5 separate regions of the Homo sapiens genome follow, and regions 2, 3, 4 and 5 are each linked to region 1. The links come from fine-mapping of genetic effects on gene expression. A gene starts in region 1. Each other region holds a variant in brackets. All regions are shown on one strand. Distances are between the middles of the regions.

Region 1 (5,104 bases):
ACTGAGGCAGGAGAATCCCCTGAACCCGGGAGGCGGAGGTTGCAGTGAGCTCAGATCATGCCACTGCACTCCAGCCTGGGCGACAGAGCAAGACTCCGTCAAAATAAATAAATAAATAATTAAATATTTAAAATGTTTAAAAATTTTAATTTAATACTTTTCTGTGGCACTTTGGGGCTCAACCAAAGTGCCACAGAAAAGTAGAAGCAGCAGCCTTGGGAAGATTCTGAAGGGTAAGTAGAGAAGGCCTTCAAGATTGAGGAAACAGCATGGGCACCTGGTTTGTGACAGGAATGGCTTGTTAGAGACCAGCAGGTGGTATGGGGAGGCTGGAGTGGGGTGTGTGGAGGGATGGAGAGCATTTGGGCCGGACTGTGGACAGCACAGGATACTACAGTCCTTGCTGATGACTTTGAGTTCATTCTGTGGACCCTGAAGGTCTGGGAGAGGATTTTTTTTTTTTGAGACAGTCTCACTCTGTCACCCAGGCTGGAATGCAATGGCACGATCTCGGCTCACTGCAACCTCTGCTTCCTGAGTTCAAGCAATTCTCCTGCCTCAGGCTCCTGAATAGCTAGGATTACAGGCATGTGCCACCACGCCTGGCTAATTTTTGTATTTTTAGTAGAGAAGGGGTTTCGCCATGTTGTCCAGGCTGGTCTCAAACTCCTGACTTCGTGATCTGCCTGCCTTAGCCTCCCAAAGTGCTGGGATTACAGGCGTGAGCTACCGCGCCCGACTGAGGATTTTTGGGTAGTGATGGACAGATCTGCATAGGGTCTCACAAGGGATTTTATAAGGTGGCAGTTCTTGTATGAAGTTACTGAGCCTCTTAATGGCCAAACTGACTTCAGTGCACAGCCAGGGGCTCAGTTACTTTGGCAGTTGATCTGACCTGAACCATCCATGCCTGCTTTCTTCCCTTTCCTTTCTTTCTTTTTCTCCTTCCTCCATTCATCTTCTCCAATTCTTCCTCCATCCCTTTCCCTTGCTTCCTTCCCCCTTGTCCCCTCCCTGAGCCTTGGGTCTGCCTGGCATGTTCCTGCTGCCCACACTGATTTGGTTGTGCTCTGAGGCAGACCCAGGTAGTTCTGAATTGTGCTTTTCAATCTTCTAGTGGTCTGGGCAGTGTGGCCCCAAATGAGCAGGAAGGGAGGGGTGCCCATCTTCTCTAATGAGTCTGGACCCAAGAAGGCAAGGAAGAAAGAAGGCAGAACAAGGATAGACTTATGAAAAAGGCATTATAGCAACGAGCCACAGGTTGCTGTGGGGCCCAGAAGGGAAGGGTTCTTTTGGGGATGGGTCTGTGTGCATGGGGAGGAGCATCCTGTTTATTTGGTTCAAGCTACTTCACAAGGACATGCCCTGTTAATTCACAGTGCTTTTCCCGAAAGCCTACTAGAACTAGGCCTGGTGAGAGGCCCTGAGAAGGTGTATCCTTTTGTCCAAGAGCATCTGGGAGAAGAGGCCTGCCTGACCCAAGCTGCAGCAAAGACACAAGTCTGTAGGTCCAGATGTGGACTCTACCACTGATTTACAAGTAGGAGTTCCTTAACACTTATGGAGGACCTCTGAGACCGACACGGTGCAAGGCCCTGGGGTACAAAGATAAAAAGCCAGAGTCCTCCCCATCAAGGCGCCACGGGCCCTGTAAACACATAAACCGAGGACACACTGCATGAGAGATCACCAATAAACGATGTAGCCATACAGTGCACAAACTGCTCACTCAGTATGTGCTAGAAAATAGCCCCAGAAGGCAAGGCTCAAGAGGGGAAATACAGTTAGGAATGTGGCAGGCTTCTAGCCCGGGCTCTGCCAGTCCTGGCTCTGAACTGCGGTTTTCTCAACCTTGAGATCCCTTGTGTGCTTTTAGTATGCTGAAGGATCACTCACTTCAGAATGCTAGTGAAAATACAGATTCCCAAGTCCGACCCCACTGAATCACAATGGCTGGAGGTCATTCGGGGCCCCGAATCTGCATTTTCACCCCCACCCACCCCCCGGGCAGCTTTAATGTTGGCAGGCTAGGAACCACAGTTCGGATTACTGCTTAACAGGGAGATAATAACCTGCTTCAGACGAGCTAGGTCAGACGAGCAATTCAAGAGCTAACAAGGCAACATGCGCCAAAAGCCTTGTAAACCTCAGGGCAGTACAATTCTTTGCAAATAATAGTAATTCAATCATGCAAATAATAATAATAGTAAACGAACTGGAGAGCGCACTGGAAACGCCGCATAGTCCAGCTGAGTCGGTGCCACCGCCCCATCCACTCCAGCGCAGAGGGACTGTCTCTTTAAGGACCCCCCACCTCCCCAACCGCGTCGCTTCTCCCTTGGGTACCTGGCCCGGCCGGCGGCGCGTGCGTGCAGGGCCTCCCGGCGGGGCGGTCGCGGCGGCGCGACGCCGGCGCCGTTGCGTGCGCGCCTGGCCCTGCCCCTTTCCCGCCCCTTCCCCGCCCCCTCCCCTCCGCGGGGCCTCCCCCGCCCGCGCGGTACAGCTGGGTCAGTGACGCGGGCGCTGCAGCCGTCGCTACCGCCGCGTTCTATTCTCCGAAGCCGGCGACCGCCCCACCTCCTCCCTCCCTCCCGCCCGCTTCCTCTGCCCACAGCGCCGGCCAGAGCGAGCTAGACAAGGGCACGCGGGGCCTCGCCTAGACCCGAGAAGACTGCGGGCGCGCGCAAGCGGCGGCGTGGAAGCTGTGAGCGCCCCCATCCCGGAGGTCTCCGCCGGCTCCCGGGTGAGTTGTCACCGCGGCCCGGGGGCGGCGGGGCCGGCATTGTGCCATCGACGCGCTCGGCCGGCTGTCAGGGGCGCGGGACCAGCGCGCACCGCCCAGGAGTGACGCTGGCCGGAGCCCGGGCCGGCTTCGGCGGCTCCCCGCGCTTCTCTGCGCCGGCCCGCTGTCACCCGGCCGCGAGCCGCGCCGCTGGGAGCCCCGCGCTGGCGTGGCGCGGCCAGCCGGCCAGCAGTGGGGGCTGCGCGGCCGGGGGGACCGGCGGCTGGTTTGCGGCCGGGAACTTGGTGACCCGCGGTCCGGGGCGCGCCGTCCCGCGTCGCTGCCCGGGCAGCACCGGAAGAGCCAGACGCCGTGCCGATGGGTGCAGAGGAGGTAGGCAGAGGCCCTCTGTGCCACTGTCATTACTGCCCTCAGCCCAGCAAAGCTGCGGGGCTTGCGCTGGGGCAGGGCTGGCTTAGAGAAGGTGGATTTCCTGAGGAAATCTCAGAGCCCGCCTGTGCGCACCGCGGCATTCGGGAGCCCCCGCGCCTCGGCTGCTCTTTAATCTCAAAAACTTCTCTTATTAACCAGGCTAAACTCCCCGAAACCAGCTATTTTCTTTCAAAAAGTAGGCACGTACATACAGACTTTCCTTTTTTCGCTTGGTTTTGAGACCCCAGCTATGAGTGTGGATCTGACTCTCCCTCATGGGAGTCGTGGCTGGGGAGCTGCTGAAGTGGAGAAAAGTTACCCTGGACGAATTTAGGAGCAGGAGGGGGAGGTGGTTATGGGGACAGCAAGACCCAGGAGCAAAGAGGCGTCAAAATAAAGTCTTGGGCTGGTTAAAGGGAAGTTGGCGTCTGGGCAAGGAGGCCTAAAGCTGTTGTTCCCACAGAATTTTCTTTCAGTGGCAGGCGACATGCTGGGCTTTGTTGCTCTCGCTAACTGGGCTCCTGTGTGCTCTTCCAGAGGTGCAGTAAGATTACTCAGTTCAATTAGGCCTAGGGATTTACTCCCTTTTTTGATCTACAGAGATGGGAAGTATGTCTTTCCTTCACAGTAGTTAATTCATTTCTTGCTGTTTTCGTTCCTCTGGTGTAAAAACATACATAGGAGTTACGCACACACACCTTTTCTGTTTTGGGAATTCCACACCCAAACTGTCACCATCTAGTGGAGGCTAGTAGAGACATGTGCTTGGCACTGACTTCTGAGTTCTCTGGGTTTTGTGTTTTTAGCTAGAAGCATATTCAACCAGAAATTAAAATTTTCCTGGAGTTGGGGGAGGTATGTCTACATCTCAGGAAAGAAGGTATTTAAGCAGCAATAATATGGAAAGGTTCTTGAGGACTTACTGAGTACCAACCTTTGTGCTAAGGGCTTTACTTTTTTGAACTCATTTAATAACAGACTTTTGATGTAGATATTATTATCCCCATTCTTCTAGTTGAGACCCAAACCAAACAAGTTAAATAACTCGCCCATGTCACATAGGTATCTCATGGTGGAGCCCACAGTCTGAACTACTAGATTATACTGCTAGTTTCTGGTTTGTTTACCTTTTGATAAAATTGAACCTGGAGTCTTTCTAAAACCTTCTGAAAGCACTGCTGCTTCAGGCTGTTTCTCAGATCATGAGCATTCTAAACTCTTTCTCCTGGGTACACACTTACGGTATGTTTGCATAAGATTCATTTGTTCATTCTTTCATTCAGTACTCCCAAGTAGTTATGTGATACCGAATGTATGCCAGGCACTGTGCTAGGTATTGCAGGTACTGCATTGAATAAGTCAGAATCCAGCTCTCATGGACTCACAGCCTTTAAGTCCATTTGTTTTGGTTTATGTTGTTAGCTTTCATTGCTGGCCATTTGCTGCTGAAGGAACTTCTGCCCAGCGAGTTAAACAGAGGACAGTATTGGTATGAGTCCTGATAGATAGGACTTCCTGTCTGCAGAGTAATTTTTTGGATACTGTAGTAGAAATGGCATATGAAACAAATCCTCACTTACACCTAGATAGAGACAGGTGCCAGGGTGCTCAGTGTTTAAACCCTGAGAGCAAACCCACTGTCAAATGGGCAAGTTTGACTTCTTTCGCTGAAGCCTGCCTTCTGAAAGCCCAGAATTTGGTGAGATAGAAGAGAAAGAAGGGTAGAATGAGGTGTTACAGATACAGGCTGGCAGATAAAGAGACCTCAGCACTTTGTCTGTTTTCCTGGTCAGTCTCTGAGGTGTGGTGATTGAACTTGTGTTCTTTTTTATTTTTTATTTTTTTTGAGATGGAGTCTCGCTCTGTCACCCGGGCTGGAGTGCAGTGGCACGATCTCGGCTCACTGCAACCTTCACCTCCCAGGTTCAAACGATTCTCTGCCTCAGCCTC
Region 2 (5,104 bases), 220 kb before region 1:
TTAGTAGAGACGGGGTTTTGCGATTTTGGCCAGGCTGGTCTTGAACTCTTGACCTCAGGTGATCCACCCGCGTCGGCCTCCCAAAGTGCTGGGATTACAGGCATAAGCCACCATGCCCGGCCTCCATTATACTTAATGGTTAAAGACGGGATGCTTTTCTGTTAAGATTAGGAAGAATACCAGAATATTTATTGCGCTACTTGTATTCAACATTGTACTAGAAGTTCTAGCCAGGGCAATTAGGCAAGAAAAAGAGATAACAGGCCTTCAGATTGGAAAGGAAGAAGTACAGCCATCATTATTTGCAGATGACATTATCTTACAGATATAAAATCCTAAGGAAACAATAAAAATCTATTAGAACTAAGAAATGAGTACAGCAAGGTTGCAGGATATAGGATTGGTATATGAAAATAAATTTTATTTCTATGCCTTAACAACAAGTCTGAAAATAAAATTAAGAAAACTCCATTTATAACAGCGTAAAAAAGAATAAAATTCTTAGAAATAAACGAAACAAAAGTAGTACAAAACGTGTACACCCTACACTATAAAATGTCATGGAAGGACTCTTTTCTTTCCCTTGAGACACAGTCTCATTCTGTTGCCCAGGCTGGAGTGCAGTGGCCCAATTGCAGCTCACTGCAGCCTTGACCTCTTAAGTTCAAGTGATCCTCCCAAGGATCTGTGACTACAGGTACGCGCCACCATGCCCAGCTAATTTTTGTACTTTTTGGAGAGCAGGGGTTTCATCATGTTGCCCAGGCTAGTCTCAAACTCCTGGGCTCAAGCAATCCGCTCACCTTGGCCTCCCAAAGTCCTGGGATAACAGGTGTGAGCCACCACGCCATGCAGAAAGTAAAGCCACCACACCATGCTTAATAAATGGAAAGACATCCCATGTTCATGAGTTGGAAGACCTGATGCCAATACTCCCTCAGATGATCTACGGATTCAACGCAATTCCCATAAAAATCCAAGCTGTTTTTGCAGAAACCAACAAGCTAATCCTAAGTTTGACACAGAAATGCAGGAGACCCAAGACAGCCAAAATAATCTTGAAAAAGAAAAACACTGGAGGATTCAAACTTCCTGATTTCAAAACTTACTATGAAACTACTCCAATCAAGACAATATGGTATTGGCATCAGGATAGGTATCTACATCAATGGAACAGAAATGAGAGTCCAGAAACAAACCCTCACATTTATGGTCAACTGCTTTTTGACAAGCATGCCAAAACAATTCAACAAAGAACAGTATTTTCAACAAATGATGCTAGGACAACAGGATAGTCACATGTGAAAGAATGAAGTTGGACACATCTCTACAACAGACCAGAGACTTAAAAGTAGGAGCCCAAACTATAAGACCCATAGAAAAAAATAAAGGCATTAATATTTGTGACCTTGGATAAACCAATGGTTTCTTAGATATGACACCAAAAACACAAAAATATGCAAGTTAAAGTTTATAAAAATAAAAAACTTTTGTGCTCCAAAAGACACTATTAAGAAAGTGAGAAGACACCACAAACGGGGAGAAAACCTTTATAAAACATCTATCTGATAAAGGACTAATGTCTAAAAATATACAAAGAACTCCTAAAACTTAACCATAATCACTCAATGAAAAATAGGCAGAAGATCTGGATACCTCAATAAAGATGCAGATGGCAAATAAGCACATGAAAAGATGACATTGTATGTCATTAGGGAATTGCAAATTAAAACAATAAGATACCTTAGAATGGCTAAAATCTAAATCAGTGACAACACCAAATGCTGGTAAGGATGTGGAACAGAAACTCATTCACGCTGGTGGGAATGCAAAATGGTCCTGCCACGTCTGAAGACAGTTTGGCAGTTTCTGACAAAGCTAAACATACTTGTACCACATAATCTAGCAATCACTCTCCTACGTATTTACGCAAATGAGCTGAAAACTTAGGTCCACACAAAAGCCTACACAGAAATGTTTATAGCAGCTTTATTCATAATTGCCAAAAAATAGAAGCAACCAAGATGCTCTTCAATAAGTGAATGGATAACCAAACCATGGTACATTCATTCAAGGGAATATTATTCAGCAATAAAAAGAAATCAGCTATGCAGCCACACACACAAAAAGTAAGAACCATAAAAGCATACTGCTAGGTTGGCCAGGCATGGGGGCTCATGCCTGTGATCCCCAGACTTTGGGAGGCTGAGGTGGACGGATCACTTGAGGTCAGGAGTTTGAGACCAGCCTGGCCTACACAGTAAAACCCGTCTCTACTAAAAATACAAAAAAAGGTAGCCAGGCATGGTGGCGCAGGCCTGTAATCCCAGCTACTTGGGTGGCTGAGGCAGGAGAATCGCTTGAACCAGGGAGGCAGAGGTTGCAGTGAGCTGAGATTACGTCACAGCATTCCAGCCTGGGTGACAGAGTAAGACTCTGTCTCGCACGCCAAAAAAAAAAAAAAAAAAAAAAAAAAAGCATATTGCTAGGTTAAAGCAGCCAGTCTGAAAAGGCTTCATACTCCGTAACTCTAACATGACATTCCAGAAAAGGCAAAACTACAGATATGGTAAAAAGATCAGGGGTTTGGGGGTGGTGGCAGGGAAGGAGGTATAGGTGGAGCAATGGGGATTTCTGGTAGTGAAACTACTCTGTATGATACAGTAAAGGTAGATACACGTAATTATACATGTCAAAACCCACAGAATGTTCAACACATACAGTAAACCCTAACATAAACTGCGAACTTTAGTTAATAATAATCTATGAATATTAATTCACCAATCCCAACAAGTGTAATCAGACTAATAGAAGATGCACTAATAGGGGAAACTAAGAAGGGGAGGAAAGAAGGCGTATGCTGGAGCTCTGTACTTTCCAAACAATTTTCCCATAAGCCTAAAACTGCTCTAAAAACATGGTCTTAAATAAAGTCTTTAACTGCTCTTAAAAAAAAGGGGGGAGGAAAAAAATGCTCTGATCTACAGGGGAATATTTACTACAAGAAAAAAAAAAAAAGAATAATAAAATTACCATTTGGCAACCACATCATGTGAGAACTTATTTAATA[ATTATT/A]TTAACATTTTTTTGTTTTAGTTTTTTAAATGGGAAATAAATCACCACTTTTAATTTTTAGAAAAAGAGCTACCAAGTCATGAAAAGACATGGGGGAAACATAATAAATGCACATTGCTAAGTAAAAAAAGCCAGTTAAGAAAAAGCCACACACGATAATGATTCCAACTATATGACATTCTGGAAAAGACAAAACTATGGAGACAGTAAAAAGACCAATGGTTCCCAGAGGTTGAGGGTGGGGTAGGAGGGGATGAATAGGTAGAGCACAAGAAATGTTTAGGGCAGGGCAGTGAAACCATTCTGTGTGATGCTGTAATGGCGGACACATGACACTGCGCATTTGGGAAAATCCACAGTAATGTAGGACATAAGAATGAAACCTAGTATGAACTATGAACTTTACTTAATGACAATGTATCAGTAATGAATACTGGTTCACCACTGTTACAAATGCACCACACCAGTGAAATTCATTAATAATAGGGGAAATTGTGTAGGGGTGAAGAAAGAGAGTAATATCGGAAAAACTGTAGTTTCTGTTCAATTTTTCTAGAACCCTGAAACTGCCCTGAGAAATAAGAGTATTGCAGAATCAAAGACCAAACATGATAATGTAGGTTAGGTAACAATTTGCTAAGAGAGCCTGCATACAAAATCTACATCAATAGCAGGCAGAAATGTCAGCAGAGAAATGGATCTGTAAAGAGATGAAGAAAAAAATGCCATGTTCTTCTTTAAGAATTAGAGTAGATGGCCTGGAGTGGTGGCTCACGCCTGTAATCCCAGCACTTTGGGAAGCCGAGGTGGGTGGATCACTTGAGGTCAGGAGTTCGGGACCAGCCTGGCCAACGTGGCGAAACCCTGTCTTTACTAAAAATACAAAAATTAGCTGGGCGTGGTGGCACACACCTGTAGTCCCAGCTACTGAGGAGACTGAGGAAGGAGAATCATTTGAACCAAGAAGGCAGAAGTTGCAGTGAGCTGAGATGCACCACTGCACTCCAGCCTGGGCGACAGAGTGAGACTCTGTCTCAAAAAACAAAAAGAAACAAAGACACCTGCACTCATACGTTTACGGCAGTACTATACACAACAGCAAAGTCATGGAATCAACTACGTATCCATCAATGGATGACTAGACAAAGGAAATGTGGTGTATGAGAATGCATGCACACACATCCCATGGAATACTACTCAGCTATTAAAAAAAGAATAAAACCATGTCTTTGCAGCAACATGGATGGAATTGGAGGTCATTATCTCAAGTGAAGTAACTCAGAAAGTCAAACATTTAATGTTCTCATTTATTAGTGGAGGCTAAATGATGTGTGCACATGGACAGACAGAGTGGAATAACTGACACTGGAGACTACAAAAGGTGGGAGAATGGTGAGGGATGAAAAATCACTACTGCGTACAATGTACACCAGGTGATGGCTACAATAAAAGCCCAGACTTGGTTGGCGCGGTGGCTCATGCTTGTAATCCCAGAACTTTGGGAGGCTAAGGCAGGAGAACTGCCTGAGGCTAGAAGTCTGAGACCAACATGTGCAACACAGTGACCCCATCTCTATAAAAAAACCAAAAAATTAGCCAGGTGTGGCGGCAGGTGCCTCTAGTCCCAGCTATTTGGGAGGCTGAGGCAGGAGGACTGCTTGAGCCCAGGAAACTGAGACTGCAATAAGCCATTATCACCACTGTACCCCAGCCTGGGTGACAGAGCAAGACCCCGTGTCTTAAGGAAAAAAAAAAAAAGGCCCAGACTTTACTACTATGCCATATATCTATATAAGAAGACTACACTTGTATCCCTTAAATCTATTAAAACAACCTATTAAAAACAGACAGACACACAAGCCTATAGTGTTTGAGCTTAACCAGAATATATAAGGGATACCTGTAAAATATTTCCATACTGTAACAAAATAACATGTGACAAATAAGAAGAGAATATTTATAAAACAACAAGCAGCTCTGGAAAGTCACTCATTATATACATTAGTTTAAAAAAAAAAAACACCTAATA
Region 3 (5,104 bases), 82 kb after region 1:
CTCCCCCCGCACCAAAAAACCACACACCTTTTATTGTCTCTTTTGTATTTGTAGTCCCTGTCTCATGGTGGGACCCCACCCCCCAGAATGTACAGGGCTCACTTCATGGTATGCCTTAGACCCAGTCACATCTCTTTCTTCAGAAAAGACCATTCAGGGCTGGGTGCAGTGGCTCACATCTGTAATCCTACCTAGCACTTTGGGAGGTTGAAGCAGGTGCATCACCTGAGGTCAGGAGTTCAAGACCAGCCCAGGCAACATGGCGAAACCCTGTCCTTACTAAAAATACAAAAAATTAGCCGGACTTGGTGGTGTGCACCTGTAATCCCAGCTACACAAGAGGCTGAGGCATGAGAATTGCTTCAACCTGGGAGAAGGCAGAGGTTGCAGTGAGCCAAGACAAGATCGTGCCACTAGACACCAGCCTGGGCAACAGAGCAAAACTCTATCTCAAAACAACAGCGACAAAAAACCCATTCAGACCTCCACCCCTCAACTGCTGGTGTTTCTCAAAGACCTATGGTGTTTTGCTGATTTGGGGCCATTGCCTCAGTGGATTTCTGTTACCATCCATAACTAGAGTTTACTGGTGTTTCCTTTCTTTCTTTGCGGTTGTCTAGGCCTTTGTGAGTAGCAGTGGCCTGTTGAGTGCCTAAGAGAATCAGCACACTACCTGACCCCCTGTTTGGGAGTATGTGGCAGAGGCTGTTTATTTCAGGCTTTGGCAGTGATAACCCAGTGGCCCTGTGTGTTCTGGGCAGTGGCAGAAAGGTAGCCCTCTAATTCCAGGTCACATCCCCATTCTGCATTTAGTGACAACCTTCCTTTCACATATCCGTCTTAGAAGTCTTGTGTTCTCAGCCAGGCTTGGTGGCTCACGCCTGTAATCCCAGTACTTTGGGAGGCTGAGGCGGGTGGATTACCTGAGGTCAGGTGTTCAAGACCAGCCTAGCCAACATGGTGAAACCTGTCTCTACCGAAAATACAAAAATTAGCCCGGTGTGGTGGCACACACCTGTAGTCCCAGCTACTCAGGAGGCTGAGGCAGGAGAATTGCTTGAACCCGGGAGGCGGAGGTTGCAGTGAGCTGAGATCATGCCACTGCACTCCAGCTTGGGTGACAGAGTGAGACTCCGTCTCAAAAAAAAAAAAAAAAAAGAAGTCATGTGTTCTCAGCTGAAAATGCCTACATATCTTCTCCCACTTGCAACTTTGCTGTCTGTGATCCTTAAATAGCTCCATTGTGTGTAGTACACAGAAATTAGTGAAGGAAACTGTCCTGCCTTTTCCCTCCACTTCTCTGGAAAAATGTGGCCCCACCTGAGATATGAACTGAGTCCTCTGGGCACAACTAAACTCACCAGGCCATATTCTTCTCCAAACAGGAATTATAGCAGCTTTTGTCCATATGTATCCCACCCCTATGTTATACTTTGTAGGTCTTGGGGTAAATTTTTTTCTGGTGGCATCAGAAAAAATCAAGAAGCTTCCTTGTAGAAGGGCCAGCCAGAATTTGAATGCAGACTCTAGTACTTAGAATCCAGGTGACCTCAGTCCATTACTAAATTTTTCAGAGCCTCAGTTTTTTCTGAACAAATCAAGTTTTATACCACCTTCTTCCTAGGGTGGAAGAATTTAATAGGATAACACTTTTAAAGTACCAGTGCAGTGCCTGGTGATAAATGTTAATTCTCTTCCTTACTTGTATCCTTTTGGCAACAGAGATCATTAAATTTGTTTTAAATTTGATTGTGTGTTTCTTGAGGCCCTGCTGTGTATGCCTGGGACTGTACTTGGCATTAGGAGTTACCATTAGCTGGTAGGATTGGAAATGAAACCACAATTTTGGCCTTTGTACCCAAGAGTCCAACCCTGTTTTAAACTCTAAGCCAGACTCCTAAGTCAGTTATCACCTGCTCATCAGCTTTCCTTCTGAGCTGCCGTAAACAGCCATCTGGGCCTTTCCTGAGAGGACCAGTCATCTCCTCTGGGAGATGAGGAATTCTGAGAGGGGAGAGCAAACACATATTTTAGCTCAGGTAGGTGATATGGTGAAGGAGATGAGAACAAGAAGTGACAATGGCTGATGAGGAAAAAATAAGCATTCTCTGCTTTTTCTTAAGCCTTTAACTGCCACTGTCAAGGGAAACAGTAACACTTGCTAATACACGTGGAATAGCCTGGCTCCCTACCTCCATTGTCATCCCACCATCTGGAGGTGGAGGTAGGAGACAGCTGTGGGCTCTGCTCTATAGGTCACTGTACTGACCTATAGCAGTGGTAGTGGCTTTGGGCACTGAGTGGGCTAGCCCTGTACCTGGAGCAGCAGGATAAAGGAGAATGGTCCTCTGGCCTGCCCCTCCTTGTAGCAGTGGTAACAGTGGGAGGGGGAGGGGTTCCCAGCCCCAGCTGGCAGCCTGTTTCCCTGGGTCCCTGAGCTGCAAGAACAAGAGGAGGTGAAAGGGTAACAGGCCATATGGAGTCCATTTGTCAGCCAAGAGCAGCCTGGGCTGTATTGTCGAGAACGGGAAGTGAAAAAGGAGCCGGCTTATTACTGAACTGGAACAAGGAGAGAGCAAACAACACCCCCCAAAGTGCTTATCCTGCTCTGTTTTCTGCCTGCCCCCTCTCCAAATATCCAGAAATTTCTGAAATAATCCTTTTTCTTTTTACCAAAGCCTTTGCCCATTCCAAAAATCAGAGATAAGGGTTTAGTTTGCTACATGAAAATTTATCAGTGCCTAGTAATGTGCCAGGCATGATACAAGACCCTTTCAAGTATGCAGTTTTGTTAGTCTTCTAAAAAAACCTGTGGAGCTGGATATTGGCTGCTAAGGACTAAGGCTCAGAGGAGTTATGACAGTTGACAAGGCTGCAGAGCAGGCCCCTGGGTCAAACCCAGATTCATCTGTCTGACCCCCAAGACTATGCTCTTACTCCATGTGGCTCTGGTCCTGTTAGGTAGGCAGTGTATTTTCACAGTTAGGTACCAATTTGGAGAATACAAATTGTACCCTGGAGAGGGATGCTCTTTGCCGTTGTCTGTTATTGACTCATCTCAAATCAAAAATCATTGTGGCTCATTGCAGTTGAAAACAAGACAGTGTTTTGAAATAAGGACAAAATTTT[G/T]CAAGTCACGTTGGTTTTCTACTAAGCATCTACTATCTCCTGGATTATTTGTCAGGTACTAGGGATACAAAAATGAGCAGAACAAGTCTCTGCCCTATGGCTTAGATGTGTGGGTTGGTGGTTATTGGGGAAATGGAGGAAGGACCAACCTGTGAGAAAACCTGCAGAGACTACAACATGGTGATAGGTTACAAATAGGAGTGAAGATGATGTAATGGGAACCCAGAGGAGGAATAATAAAGCTGCTGTTATTGAACACTTAGTATGTGACAGACCCATTACCAGGTACTTTACCTGCATAGTTGTGATTAACCTTTTGAATCCCCATGTTAAAAATGAGGAAACTGAGGAATAGGAAGATCTCCCCAGGACTACCCAGTGGGTAACTGTTGGAGCAGTGTGCAACCCCAGGCCGTGAAGTCTCAGCCCAAGCTGGTAAGCTCCACCCTGTGCTGCTCATTGTTTCTCTCTGGCCATGCCTGGGAAGGTGGCCTTGGAACCTTGGAGATGGGTGGGGTTCCAGCTGACTGCATGTGCTTTCAGTTCAGGGTTTCTAGGCTGGGAGAGAAACAGTACTTTTGACTGAATGACTAAGGACTTTAGAGGCTTAGGTGCCACTAAAAGCACTTTCTTTTATTGAACGCTGTGCCTCAAACATGAAAACTCCAGGTGACAGGAGTTTTTATGTTTGAGGCAGGGTGCAGTAAAAGAAAGTGCTTGTTGGCTCTGAGGCCTCTGGCTGGCATTTTCCCTCTCCTGTGAGGGGGAGGAAGTGAGGGGCCCAGGCCTAAAACAAGATGGACAGGTCCGAGGCCTGTCCCACCTGTCAGTTGCTGATCTTCCGAGGAGGGCTTAGGTTGAGCCTCTCTTAGGAAGGCAGTGGTGGGGGCCCGAGAAGAGCCACAGGAGGTATCCTGAGCCATGGGTGGTTTCTCCCTGTGTTCTCCCACCCCAGCTCTGGTGCCACACCCTGAAAAAGGCTTGAGCTACTGCAGGCTGGCTCTCCCCCAGTGAGTGGGAAGTTCTCATGAGAAAAGGGATCCTGACTGGACAATAGGCTTCCTGTCTGACTGCTAGGAAGATTTGTCTCATAGGAGAGGAAGGTTGCAAATGGCATGAGAAACCATCTCACTTCCCTCTCACTGCAGCCTGTTTTAGACTTGACTATTTGGCGGGATCGGGAAGCCAGAAGGCTGGGCAGAGCCATGGACCAGAGCAGCCCCAGGTATCTCTTAAGTAGTGGGACTCCTGCCTGTTTTCCGGCTCTCACCACAAGTCCACAGCAGGAATCTGTCCCAATGCAGGAATTTCTGCATGGACAGGATGATCTCTAGCCCCTCACACCTTGTGCTGTATCCAAAACCACAATGGTTGCAGGACTTTTGCGAAGGAACCTTGGAGAGGTAGTGAGGCCCGCCAACTTTAGACAAATTTGCAAATGTCAGAAGAGATCTCAGAGGTGATCTGGTTCATTGCCTTCATGTATTGAAACTGAGGCCCAGAGTCTACGGGCAGTACCCAGTTTGTCCTTGTCACTGGACTCTGCCATCTGTGGCTCCCTTGACAGATTATGGGTGTGAGAGAAGCCTGACTCCGAGACCCTCTGATACTGCCCAGTGCTGTGGAATGGGAATACAGCCTTCTGGGGTTCAAATCCTAACTGTGCCACCCACCTGCTGGGTGAAATTGAGCAAGTATCTCAACCCCTGGCTCATCTGTGTAATGCATTGTTATGTTTCTAGAGGGTTTTTTGTGAAACTTAAATGAGTTACATATGTAAAGTGCTCAGATAGTGCCTGGCCTGTAGTCAGTGAACACAAGCTGTTGTTATTAGGAGGCTTCAGAAGAAACCTTTTGACCATATCAGATGTCATCACTTGTTTTTTCTTCTTTGTATTTGTCTGGAATGCTCTAATTCCAACTTGCCTGGGAGGCTTTCTTTAGGGGAATCACCTCCCCTTTGAAAAAGGCTGTT
Region 4 (5,104 bases), 110 kb after region 1:
GCCCCTAGTCCAGGTCCAGTGTGTGTCCCTGTCCCACCATCTTCAGCAAGTCCACTCTCTTCTGCTTGGCTTTGGAGCCCAGCCCCATCCTGTTCTCCAACACAACTTCCCTCTGCATCCTGAACACCTATGACTCACTGCGCTAGAGTCACCGTGGCTCCCTTGGCCCTGAATGCTGCTCCTGGAGAGGTTGGAAGGAAGAGCGACACCTGAGGACAAACTCCTGTATTAGTCCATTCTCATGCTGCTATGAAGAAATAACATGAGACTGGGTAATTTATGAAGAAAAGAAGTTTAATTAACTCATGGTTCTGCGTGGTTGGGGAAGCCTCAGGAAACTCACAATCATGAGGGAAGGCTCCTCTTCACAGGGTAGCAGGAGAGAGAATGAGTGCCAAGCGAAGGGGGAAGACCCTTATAAAACCATCACATCGGCCAGGCACAGTGGCTCATGTCTGTAATCCCAGCACTTTGGGAGGCCGAGGGGGATGGATTACCTGAGGTCAGGAGTTCGAGACAAGCCTGGCCAACATGGTGAAACCCCATCTCTACTAAAAATACAAAAATTAGCCAGGCCTGGTGGCTTATGCCTGTAATCCCAGCTACTTGGGAGGCTGAGGCATAAGGATCGCTTGAACCCGGGAGGCAGAGGTTGCAGTGAGCTGAGATTGCGCTACTGCACTCCAGCCTGGGCAATAGAGCGAGATTCAGTCTCAAACAAACAAAAAACAAAAACAAACCATCACATCTTGTGAGAATTCACGATCATGAGAACAGCATGGGGGAAACTGTCCCCATGATTCAATTACCTCCACCTGGTCCCGCCCTTGATATGTGGGGATTATTACAATTCAAGGTGAGATTTGGATGGGGACACAGAGTCAAACCATATCACCTCCTGAGGCAGCCTAGGTGTCTGGGGGAAGTTCTGAGAAGCTCTTCACTCCTTTCCTAGTTCCTTCAGATCAGGGCTGGGCAGGAGGCAAGGAAAAGAGCCCCAGTATGAATAGGGAATACTTCCCAGAGTTCAAGACCTGGGGCAGCACTTTATTTTCCTTCCTGTCTTGATCTCAACCTGAGGCTGTGGCCCATCTGCAGCCTAGACTATGGAGAGGAGACTAGGGAAGGAAGAGAGCTGCCTTGTTTATCACCTGCTTCCACCTCACTGGGTGACAGGCGGCCTCTTTCCCCTGCATTGGAAGTGGCAGGAGAGGAGGGAGCTCAGAGGCAAGGGTAGTGAGACTCTGGCTGGCCAGAGGCACTGCTGCTGAATCCCCCACTCTGGTAGTGGGAAGGCCCGGCTGAAAGGAGACTCCTTCTTTTCTCCACAGGCCTTGGAATGAGAAGAAGGGATCACAGGGAGATTCTGAGTGGCCCAGTCCATGGTAGAAGCTGGCTGGTCTGCCTTCCCAGCAGCGGCCCAGGGTGGGGGAAATGGCACTGTCCCAACCTTGCCCACTCAAGTGATCCCAGAAGCCAAGCTGCATACAGAGTGGGTCTCACGGTCTGTCTTCAAGATGAGAGGCGACAGCAGCAAATGCAGTTGTGCCCCAATAGGGACTTTGGTCTGGTGGGGAGCACGTGGGGGAGTGTTGGCTCCACAGGACATTTACCACACAGCTTCCCTTTCCCCAACCTTCCGTGATGTTTGCTGAGCACCTAATAGGTTCCCGGGACTGGGTAAGGTGCTTTAAAGATACTATTTTAGGCCAGGAGAAATGGCTCATGGCTGCAATCCCAGCACTTTGGGAGGTCGAGGTGGGAGGGATCACTTGAGGCCAAGAGTTTGAGACCAGCCTGGGCAACAGAGCAAGATCCTATCTCTTCAAAAAATTTTAAAAATTAGCCGGGTGAGGTGGTTTGCACCTGTAGTCCCAGGTACTCAGGAGGCTGAGGTGGGAGGACTGCTTGAGCCCAGGAGGTTGAGGCTGCAGTGAGCTATGATTGCTTCACTGCACTCCAGCCTGGGCAACAGAGTGAGACCCTGTCTCCAAAACAAAGAAACAAAAAAGAGACAGAGAGAGAGAGGTGTTATTTTAATCAATCAACTCAGCCAGTCTTGCAAGGCAGATGTCATTACCCTTTTTACAGGTGAGGACAGTAAGGCTCAGAGAGATTCAAGTACAGTCCAAGACCACATAGGTCATGCATCCTCAGCTGAGTTGCGGTTTGAATTCAGGTGTGCCACTCCTGGCCTCTTCACCTCACGCTGCTCACTTGCTCACCTCTTCTACTCCCCAGCTTTTCTCCCTGGGTTCTTGATCACCTGACCCCTTCACACCTACTATCCTGCCCAAGAATCCCTCTCAGCAATGTCCAAAACCAGGACACCAAGCCATTTAGCAAAATGCAGTCCCAGATGCTCAGCAGTCTCAGCAGTCAGGATGGGTTCTGGGTCCCTGGAAAGATCAGGCAAGGCCAGGAGACCCAGGCAGCCCCTGTCTCCTCCCTGGGCCTTGCTTCTGAAAGGTGAGGAGAATGCTCTGTATTCTCAGGTCTTCCCACTTCTCCTTGGGACTAGAGCTGGGGGCACTTGCCAGGCTTTTCTCTTTCTGTTACTGAAAAGGGAATTTCATCAGCTGTGAACCTGGGGTGAGACATGACACATTCCCAAGTTGAGCCTAGGTTCATCCTCCAAGCTGCCTGGTGATGAAGGAGCATTACCGGGCTTGGGGACCATCCAATCCCACACCCAAGAGGCAAACAGCTGCTCGGCATTTCCTGTGACGCTCCAGTGCCCCTAGAAAAGGAAATTTCACAAGCTAGGAATGTCCTGAGCAGGCTGTCTGGGACAGTATACACTGTTCTGAACCTG[G/A]GGGAGTAGATGATTCTATGGTTCTTCCTGCAGAGGTTTTGGCAAGCATGGACTTCCCCATAGCAGAGTTTTCTGTGGGAGTAAGTAGCCCTGCCTGCAGCAAAGGCAGCCTATTGCAGATGAAGCGTGTCAGCAGGGCTCAGCGTCTGAAGGGACTGGGGTATGCGACAAGACTATGGCTCAACACAAATGCACCCAGCGTGGGGGCTGCCCTGGCTTCTGGGGTTGGCCTCTTGAGGGCCTTGAGCAGCTGGGGTCCAGAGACTTTTAGGGACTTTTGGTGCTGTAGCCTCTCTCTGGGACGGCCATTCCCCATTCCTGCTGCAATCCTCATTCACTGACTTGTTTGCTAATTCATTCAACAAACTTTTATTTATTTATTCATTCATTTTGAGGACTTTACACAAAGCCTAGTGTTAGGTTCTAGGAACATAGTGATGAACAAGAGCCAGTCTTTGCCCTTAAAGAGTTTGTAGACCAATAGGGGAGAAAGAGATTAAACAGCTATCTAAAACTTAAGGCACAACTTAAAATTGAAAGAAACAAAGAAGCAAAAAACAAACCTATAATGATACACCCTGAAAAGTGCTTGGTAGTGATGAGAAAGGAGCTAATTTCTTTAGGGTATGAACAAAGATTCCCCGGAAAGGTGCCACTCGCATTGGGTCTAAATTGTTGTGTTTCGATATTATTCGTAGAGAAGTAAGTAAATGAGGGGCTGTGGGATGGGAAGAAGAGGACTTTTCAGGCTGTAGAGACCCATAGAAGCAAATGTACAAGCATCTTTTTTTTTTTTTTAAGACAGAGTCTTGCTGTGTTGCCAGGCTGGAGTGCAGTGGTGTGATCTCGGCTCACTGCAACCTCTGCCTCCCAGGATCAAGGAATTCTCGTGCTTTGGCCTCTCGAGTAGCTGGGACCACAGGCACCCACCACCACACCCAGCTAATTTTCTGTGTTTTTTTTGGTAGAGATGGGACTTCACCATGTTGCCCAGGCTGGTCTTGAACTCCTGAGCCTAAGCGATCTGCCCACCTCGGCCTCCCAAAGTGCTGGGATTACAGGTATGAGCCACTGCGCCCGGCCAAGTGTACCAACATCTAAAACATGAACCACATGAAACTGTCATTTTTGCAGGTTGAAAAAAAGTTCAGATATGGGCAATTTTAACCTAACATATAATTGTCTTAAGATCTGCTCAAATTAGGGATGCCTTTCTTCTCTGAGTTAGACTGCTACATTTTAATTATTTTAATCACAAGAAGGAAATTCCAGGACACCCAAAGTGTCCAAAGTCTTCTTGTCCTGGAGCCTATGCCCCACAATAACAGAGCACTGAGCATAGCTGACTCTTTGGTTACCATGAGCCAGCTCCTGCCGGCTGACTGCAGGAGGCGTTTTGAGAAATCACATGAGCCGTTCAAGTCTCCAGGACAGCACCAATGCACTTGTTCTTCCAGGTGGACAACAGAAGGACACCCACAACTCATAACTAAGTTCCTGCCAGCAACAGCCAGGCAGCTATTCCAATGCAGACGTGTTTTGACCCTTTTTATTGTTTTCCATAGGGCAGAAAATGAGAGACAGAAGTTACACCCATTTACAACATTCTCTCCTTGTTAACTTTTTCTATTTTTTATTAGAAACATTCAAAAAACGTGCTATTTTATGATAAGAGTAATACATATTAAAACATCAGAAATAATATTTTTTCACCTCAGGTTGGGAAAAGAAAAGGCTTAAAGGTATCTAGTAGGAGTGTAAATTGGTACATTGTCTATGGAGGGCAATTCGGCCCACAACCATCAAAATTACAACATAGGGCTAGGCGCAGTAGCTCATGCCTGTAATCCCAGCACTTTGGGAGGCCAAGAAGGGCAGATCACCGGAGGTCAGGAGTTTGAGACCAGCCTGGCCAATATGGTGAAACCCCATCTTCACTAAAAATAAAAAAAATTAGCCAGGTGTAGTGGCGCATGCCTGTAATCCCAGCTACTTGGGAGGCTGAGGCAGGAGAATCACTTGAACTTGGGAGGCGGAGGTTGTAGTGAGTTGAGATTGCGCTACTGCACTCCAGCCTGGGCGACAGAGAGAGACTCAGTCTCGAAAAAAAAATTACAATGTAGTTCCTTATCTTCCTCCCTTACTGAACTCATTCAGTCCTAAAGACAGTAAGTGAGGGCACACAAGAGAGTTACACATTCAGAAAGAGGGAACGACCCCAACCAAAACAAACAGAATGAACCCTACAATGCCAGATTGGAATTGGAGATATTGATGTGAACTTGTGGT
Region 5 (5,104 bases), 92 kb after region 1:
TATTTCCCATGAGTCTGTTTTTTTTGTTTTGTTTTGTTTTGTAAAAGTATTTTAGATAACAAAAACCTAATCCCTAAAGCATTACAAGAAAATACTGGAGAGTATGTTTATAAACTCAGAGTAGAGAAAGAGTCCTTAATCCAGAAGCCATAAAGAGAATGATTTTTTAAATATATGTGTGCACTTAATGGTCATATCCCTATTTGGCAAGAAGGACCTGAGGTGCTTATATTTTTGTCCTTTTTCAGAGCATAGCACAGTGACCCCCTACTCAGAATCAGTAAGTATTAGTTGAATTGAAATTAAACTGAATTACAAGTCACTTCTTTGCAGTCCTCACTTTTTTTTTTTTTTGACTTATTATGAGTGCTAGGTGACCGCCAGGATCCCGCTCAAAGATTCTGTGGAGATGTGGGTTTTATGGAAAGAGATACCCAGCAAAGCAGGAGTGGCTTTAGAATCAGCAGCTCTTCCCCTGAGACTGTCCTTCCCAGCACATTGGACTTGTGTGTGGGTCCTGCCTGCTTTCAGGAGCTGCCATGGGGTGCTCAGCATTAATTATGCCACGGAAATGAACCAATTAGACACAGTCCAAGGAGAGCCAGGGAGTAAGTCAGGGAGATCTGTGGCAGGCCTGCTGCCCTGAACAAAAGAGGGAAAGTGTAAAGGCTAAAGCAGTTTGCGGAGGTTTCTTTGGAAATCTAGCTGGCCAGCGCTCTGAACTACTTGGCCAAAGTTAAAGAGCACCAGAAGGAGTGTTTGCGTTTTTCTTTCTCCTGTTCAAGACTCTGGTGGTGGAGGAGAATAGGGACAAGTTGGGTCCTTAGAGGGGACTTGGGGGGAGCTTACTGGAGCTCATCTCCTAGTTTCAGAGAAGCTGCCAGACTTCTCTGGATCCCTGTGGCACCTACCCAGCTTTGTTTTGTTAATAGCTTTTTAAAAATGGCATCTTTTTTTTAGTGGCATCACCTAAAAAAAGAAAAGAAAAAGTGCCTTTTCTCCCCATCTCAAGTGATAAGCAAATTGAGGGTAGGGAGCCATCATCTCTTTTCCATTTGGTGTCCACTCCCCAACCTGGCTGGCAGTCAGCTTGCTTAACAGCCATTTGTAGATTGGAAAGAAGAGGCATGGGTGAGAGAGGCTGTGAGGGCACAGCTGCAGGGTGGTGTGGTCTGCCCCTCTCGTGGATGAGAAACTGCCTTATCTTGGACAGTCAGGCACTGTGGTGTGACTCTCAGTCACTCCAGGCCTGTCAGAGGAAATGAGAAAAAGAAAACGACCGTTCTTATTCTCATACAGATGTCCTTGTGATATTCAGGATGGGGGCAGGTTATTTGTCAGCAAAATTGAATTTCCTTTGGAAAACTTTTGGTCTTTATTGCATTCATGGTTGCCTGGCCATTCTACCTCAGCCCAACATTCCAAACAGTGATTCTGTAGTGCCCCCACTTTTACTGTTTTGGCTGGTAATACCCGGCAGTCCACCACCTGGGGTCTTCAGTTTTGCAGTGTCAGTCCAGAGTGGAATCAGAGGTTGTCCTTTTCCTCCTCAGGTCCACTCAGACCTTCCAGATCCTCTGACTTACCATTACTGCAACTTACCAGGGTTCCCACCATACCTAGGCACTGCCTGCCATCTCCCTAACTGACCAGTTTCAAGAGGGCAAAGGGGAGGTAACCTTGACACCCATACCCCTTAAAGGCCATGCAGCTCATGGGGTAGAAGCAATGTCTGCTGGTGGAAAGAGCAGAGGTTTAGAATCAGAAGATTTGACTGTGACCCCAAGCCTGCCATTTACCTTGCTGTAAGCTTGGCTAAAAGTCACTTAACTTTTGTGGCCCTCAGTGTCTTCTTCTTCAAAGGAGAGTAACGATAGCTGTCTCACAGAGTTGTCAGGACAAATAAGGCGGGAGGTGAAGGTGCTTTTGAAACTAGGCAGTCCTGTATATCAGTGGAAAATGTGGAATTTATCATGGGATAGAGACAGGTGGTGCCATTGACTACTATAGTCAGAGAATGGAAGATGCACAGGGGGTTTGGGAAGCCTCCCAGGGAATCTATCAGAAATCCCCTCTCAGGCCAAGAGTGCACGTTTTTATTATACAATAGAGTCTTTTCTGACATTGATAGTGGAAACAAGGCCAACATTTTTCCTCCTTTCACTGTGATTTATTATGTGTGTTACAGGCTTTATTACATAATACAGGCTTTATTAAAACTATTATGTCTAGATCTCTATAGGTTCAAGACTTTAGAGTCTGCCGTTCATTTATGGATGGAATTCTCTTAAGGCATGGTGGGGAGGGAGGGGGAAATGTTGCAAGCAGCCACTTCCCCTGTTGCCAGTATACTTCCCCTCTGTCAGTGGCAACCTGAGTTTCCAGGGTTTGGTTAACAGTTCCTCCAAGGAAAGGGTTATTTCCTCCTCCTGTGTTTCCTGTAGAGGCCTTCAGAGCTGCGTCACTGAGAGCAGACTCCTACTGGATACCTCACCACTGTACCCCTGCTCTCTCCCTGTCTTTGCAGTGTGCCCCCTACCACCGGAGCCAGAGAATGGTGGCTACATCTGCCACCCCCGGCCCTGCAGAGACCCCCTGACAGCAGGCAGTGTCATCGAATACCTGTGTGCTGAAGGCTACATGTTGAAGGGCGATTACAAATACCTGACGTGTAAGAATGGCGAGTGGAAACCAGCCATGGAGATTAGCTGCCGTCTCAACGAGGGTCAGTCTGGCAGATGAAAAAGGGATGCTGCTGGGGTTCTGCTTTCTGTTAACTCACAGGATGCAAAGCATGCTTCCTCCAGAGCACTCTTTGCTGTGGTGCAGCCCAGCCCCAGTTGATGCTCTGCAGCCTCCCTTCCTTGGGTCTTCATGTCTTTGTGGAAGATACTTGAGGTTGCTGGTGCATGTCCTATTGCATTTCATTGAGCCATCTGCCCTGCTCTGTAAAGCCCGTTTGATGTTCAGGATCTCTTGTTTGCATGGCCAAGTGTTGGTGACCCTTGACCATGTTCTGCCCTCACAGTGAGCACAATGCTAATACCTTCTCTAATGTATCGTCCATTTCATTTTTCCTTGAATGGAGCTACAGACCAGCTGGACAAAAGACCTCCCACCCTTACTGCTTCCTCCTGTCTTGCATGACAGGAAAATCCACCTGCTTGCAG[G/T]AAAGTGTGTCATATAACCATCTTTGTGCTTCCCACTCAGGCTTCAAGACCAGAGCATGTTTAACCCATGACACCCCAGAAATGGGTGGGAACCAACCTGAGAGTTACAATTAAAGCTGTGGATCTTAAGACAAGGTTTTATTACAGTCCAGTTTCTGTAAATTAATCCTGCCACTTGGGAAGAACATAGGTAGAACTTAAGATGGTGGAATGACATGCCCAGTTAAATTGTCGATGTTTACAAACTTCAAGCTTTTGAGGATGGGATCAAAGTGGTTTATAAAGGTAAAATCTCTAGGGTTAAGTGAGTTTATGTGTCAGATGGACCTCAAAGATTGGAAGTGAGGGGAATTTTTTATTCAGGAAACAGGATAGGGAAATGGTCCTTTTCCAAAAGAACTGTGTATACATAGGTCATTCTAAGCTGTTATTCCTGAAATGACCCTGACCGTAGGATGTCTGTATTGCACCATTCAGGAGGCATTTGACAAGATCAGCTGTGGGGCCCATCAGCTGTTTTGTGTATTTGGGTACAAAACCCTTCTGATGATGGCTTGTTTTTATAGATAAAGACACCCACACATCACTTGGGGTCCCCACGCTGTCTATAGTGGCTTCTACTGCCAGCTCCGTGGCGCTCATTCTCCTCCTCGTGGTGCTGTTTGTGCTGCTGCAGCCAAAGCTGAAGTCTTTCCATCATAGCAGGTGAGTCCAGTGGCAGAGCTGACATGAGACAGGCAGGTGCAAGCATTACTGTGGGGGCCAGTCTTTGGTGGAGGGTTGCTGGTGGCCCCAATCTCTGTGGGTCTGTGTGTGTCCAGGGAGTGGGGAGGGCCCTGCCATGTGTCAAACTCCTAGATGTGCCTACCATTGTGCTTATTGCTTTGCATACATTATCTTAATCCTCATAGGAACATTGCAGATGAGGAAATTGAGGCTCAGAGAGGTTATTCACTCAGGGTTATACCTCTAGATGACAACAGAGCTCAGAACTGAGGCTGCGCGCGGTGGCTCATGCCTGTAATCTCAGCACTTAGGGAGGCTGAGGTGGGCGGATTGCCTGAGGTCAGGAGTTTGAGACCAGCTTGACCAACATGGTGAAACCCTGTCTCTACTAAAAATACAAAACAATTAGCCGGGTGTGGTGGCGCGCGCCTGTAGTCCCAGCTACTCTGGAGGCTGAGGCAGGAGAATCACTTGAACCCACGAGGCAGAGGTTGCAGTGAGCCGAGATCACACCACTGCGCTCCAGTCTGGGAGACAGAGTAAGACTCTGTCCCATTAAAAAAAAAAAACAAAAAAAAACGGAAATCTGTTCAATTCCAAAGCCATGTCATTTCCCCTACACCAGTCGTTCTCAAAGCGTGGTTCCAGCAGCGTCAGGATCATGGAACTTGTTAGGATCAACCAAATGAGAAGCTCTAGGGGTGAGGCCCAGTGATATTGTTTAACAAGCTGTCCAGGTGATTTTGATGAACACTTAAGTTTGTGAGCCACTATCCTGCACTCCTGGTTCCCAGTCCCGGCTGCAATATAGAGGCACCTGGGGGAGTTTAAAAACAAATATCAACACTTGGGCCTCCATTCCCATTCTGATTTATTTGGTTTGGAATGGAACCCTGGCATTCACTTTTTATAAAAAGCTCAGTTTTTCTGTGCAACTAGGATTTAGAACCACTGCACCACACTAAGGAGAAACAAAGGAAGTGGATTTTCTTGCCTGCCTTTATCAGTTTCCTTTTCCAGTCTACTGCTTTAGCCACAAGTTGTCTAGGGGCGAGGAGCATGAAGGGCAGAGCTGATGGTGCTGGCCCTGAGTGGATTCCCGATGATGGACTTTTCTTCCAGGCCATTGTGGCTTCTGCAGTTACTTGGCCCTTCCTGGCAGTTCCTCATTCCCTCTTGAGGAGTAACATTTTTTATATATCTTCACA

Which allele goes with the higher level. Alleles are on the strand shown, and positions count from the first base shown. SD is a standard deviation of normalised expression in the study named. Not every link is listed here.
With allele A in place of G in region 4, the expression in testis of the gene that starts at base 2,511 in region 1 is lower (small effect, 0.20 SD a copy in GTEx).

What was found.
Region 2: its variant is fine-mapped to the expression of SUSD6 in visceral fat (GTEx, PIP 0.97).
Region 3: its variant is fine-mapped to the expression of SUSD6 in whole blood (TOPMed, PIP 0.97).
Region 4: its variant is fine-mapped to the expression of SUSD6 in testis (GTEx, PIP above 0.99).
Region 5: its variant is fine-mapped to the expression of SUSD6 in whole blood (TOPMed, PIP 0.99).

The regions. Positions count from the first base shown.
Region 1 is chr14:69,609,086-69,614,189 of GRCh38, forward strand. SUSD6 (sushi domain containing 6) reads left to right here and starts at 2,511. Exons shown (of 6, transcript NM_014734.4): 1 at 2,511-2,743. RefSeq lists a silencer at 2,260-3,029.
Region 2 is chr14:69,389,205-69,394,308 of GRCh38, forward strand. The region is part of intron 2 of ERH (ERH mRNA splicing and mitosis factor); the gene reads right to left. Among named protein-coding and RNA genes, the nearest start is that of ERH, 6.5 kb to the right of the region's middle. The variant ATTATT/A (reference allele first, on the strand shown) is at 3,071.
Region 3 is chr14:69,690,899-69,696,002 of GRCh38, forward strand. All of the region lies in intron 2 of SUSD6 (sushi domain containing 6), which reads left to right. Among named protein-coding and RNA genes, the nearest start is that of SRSF5, 74 kb to the right of the region's middle. RefSeq lists an enhancer at 3,588-3,637. The variant G/T (reference allele first, on the strand shown) is at 3,130.
Region 4 is chr14:69,716,908-69,722,011 of GRCh38, forward strand. No RefSeq gene overlaps it. Among named protein-coding and RNA genes, the nearest start is that of SRSF5, 48 kb to the right of the region's middle. The variant G/A (reference allele first, on the strand shown) is at 2,816.
Region 5 is chr14:69,700,868-69,705,971 of GRCh38, forward strand. It overlaps SUSD6 (sushi domain containing 6), which reads left to right. Exons shown (of 6, transcript NM_014734.4): 3 at 2,528-2,725; 4 at 3,737-3,875. Among named protein-coding and RNA genes, the nearest start is that of SRSF5, 64 kb to the right of the region's middle. RefSeq lists a silencer at 425-719. The variant G/T (reference allele first, on the strand shown) is at 3,171.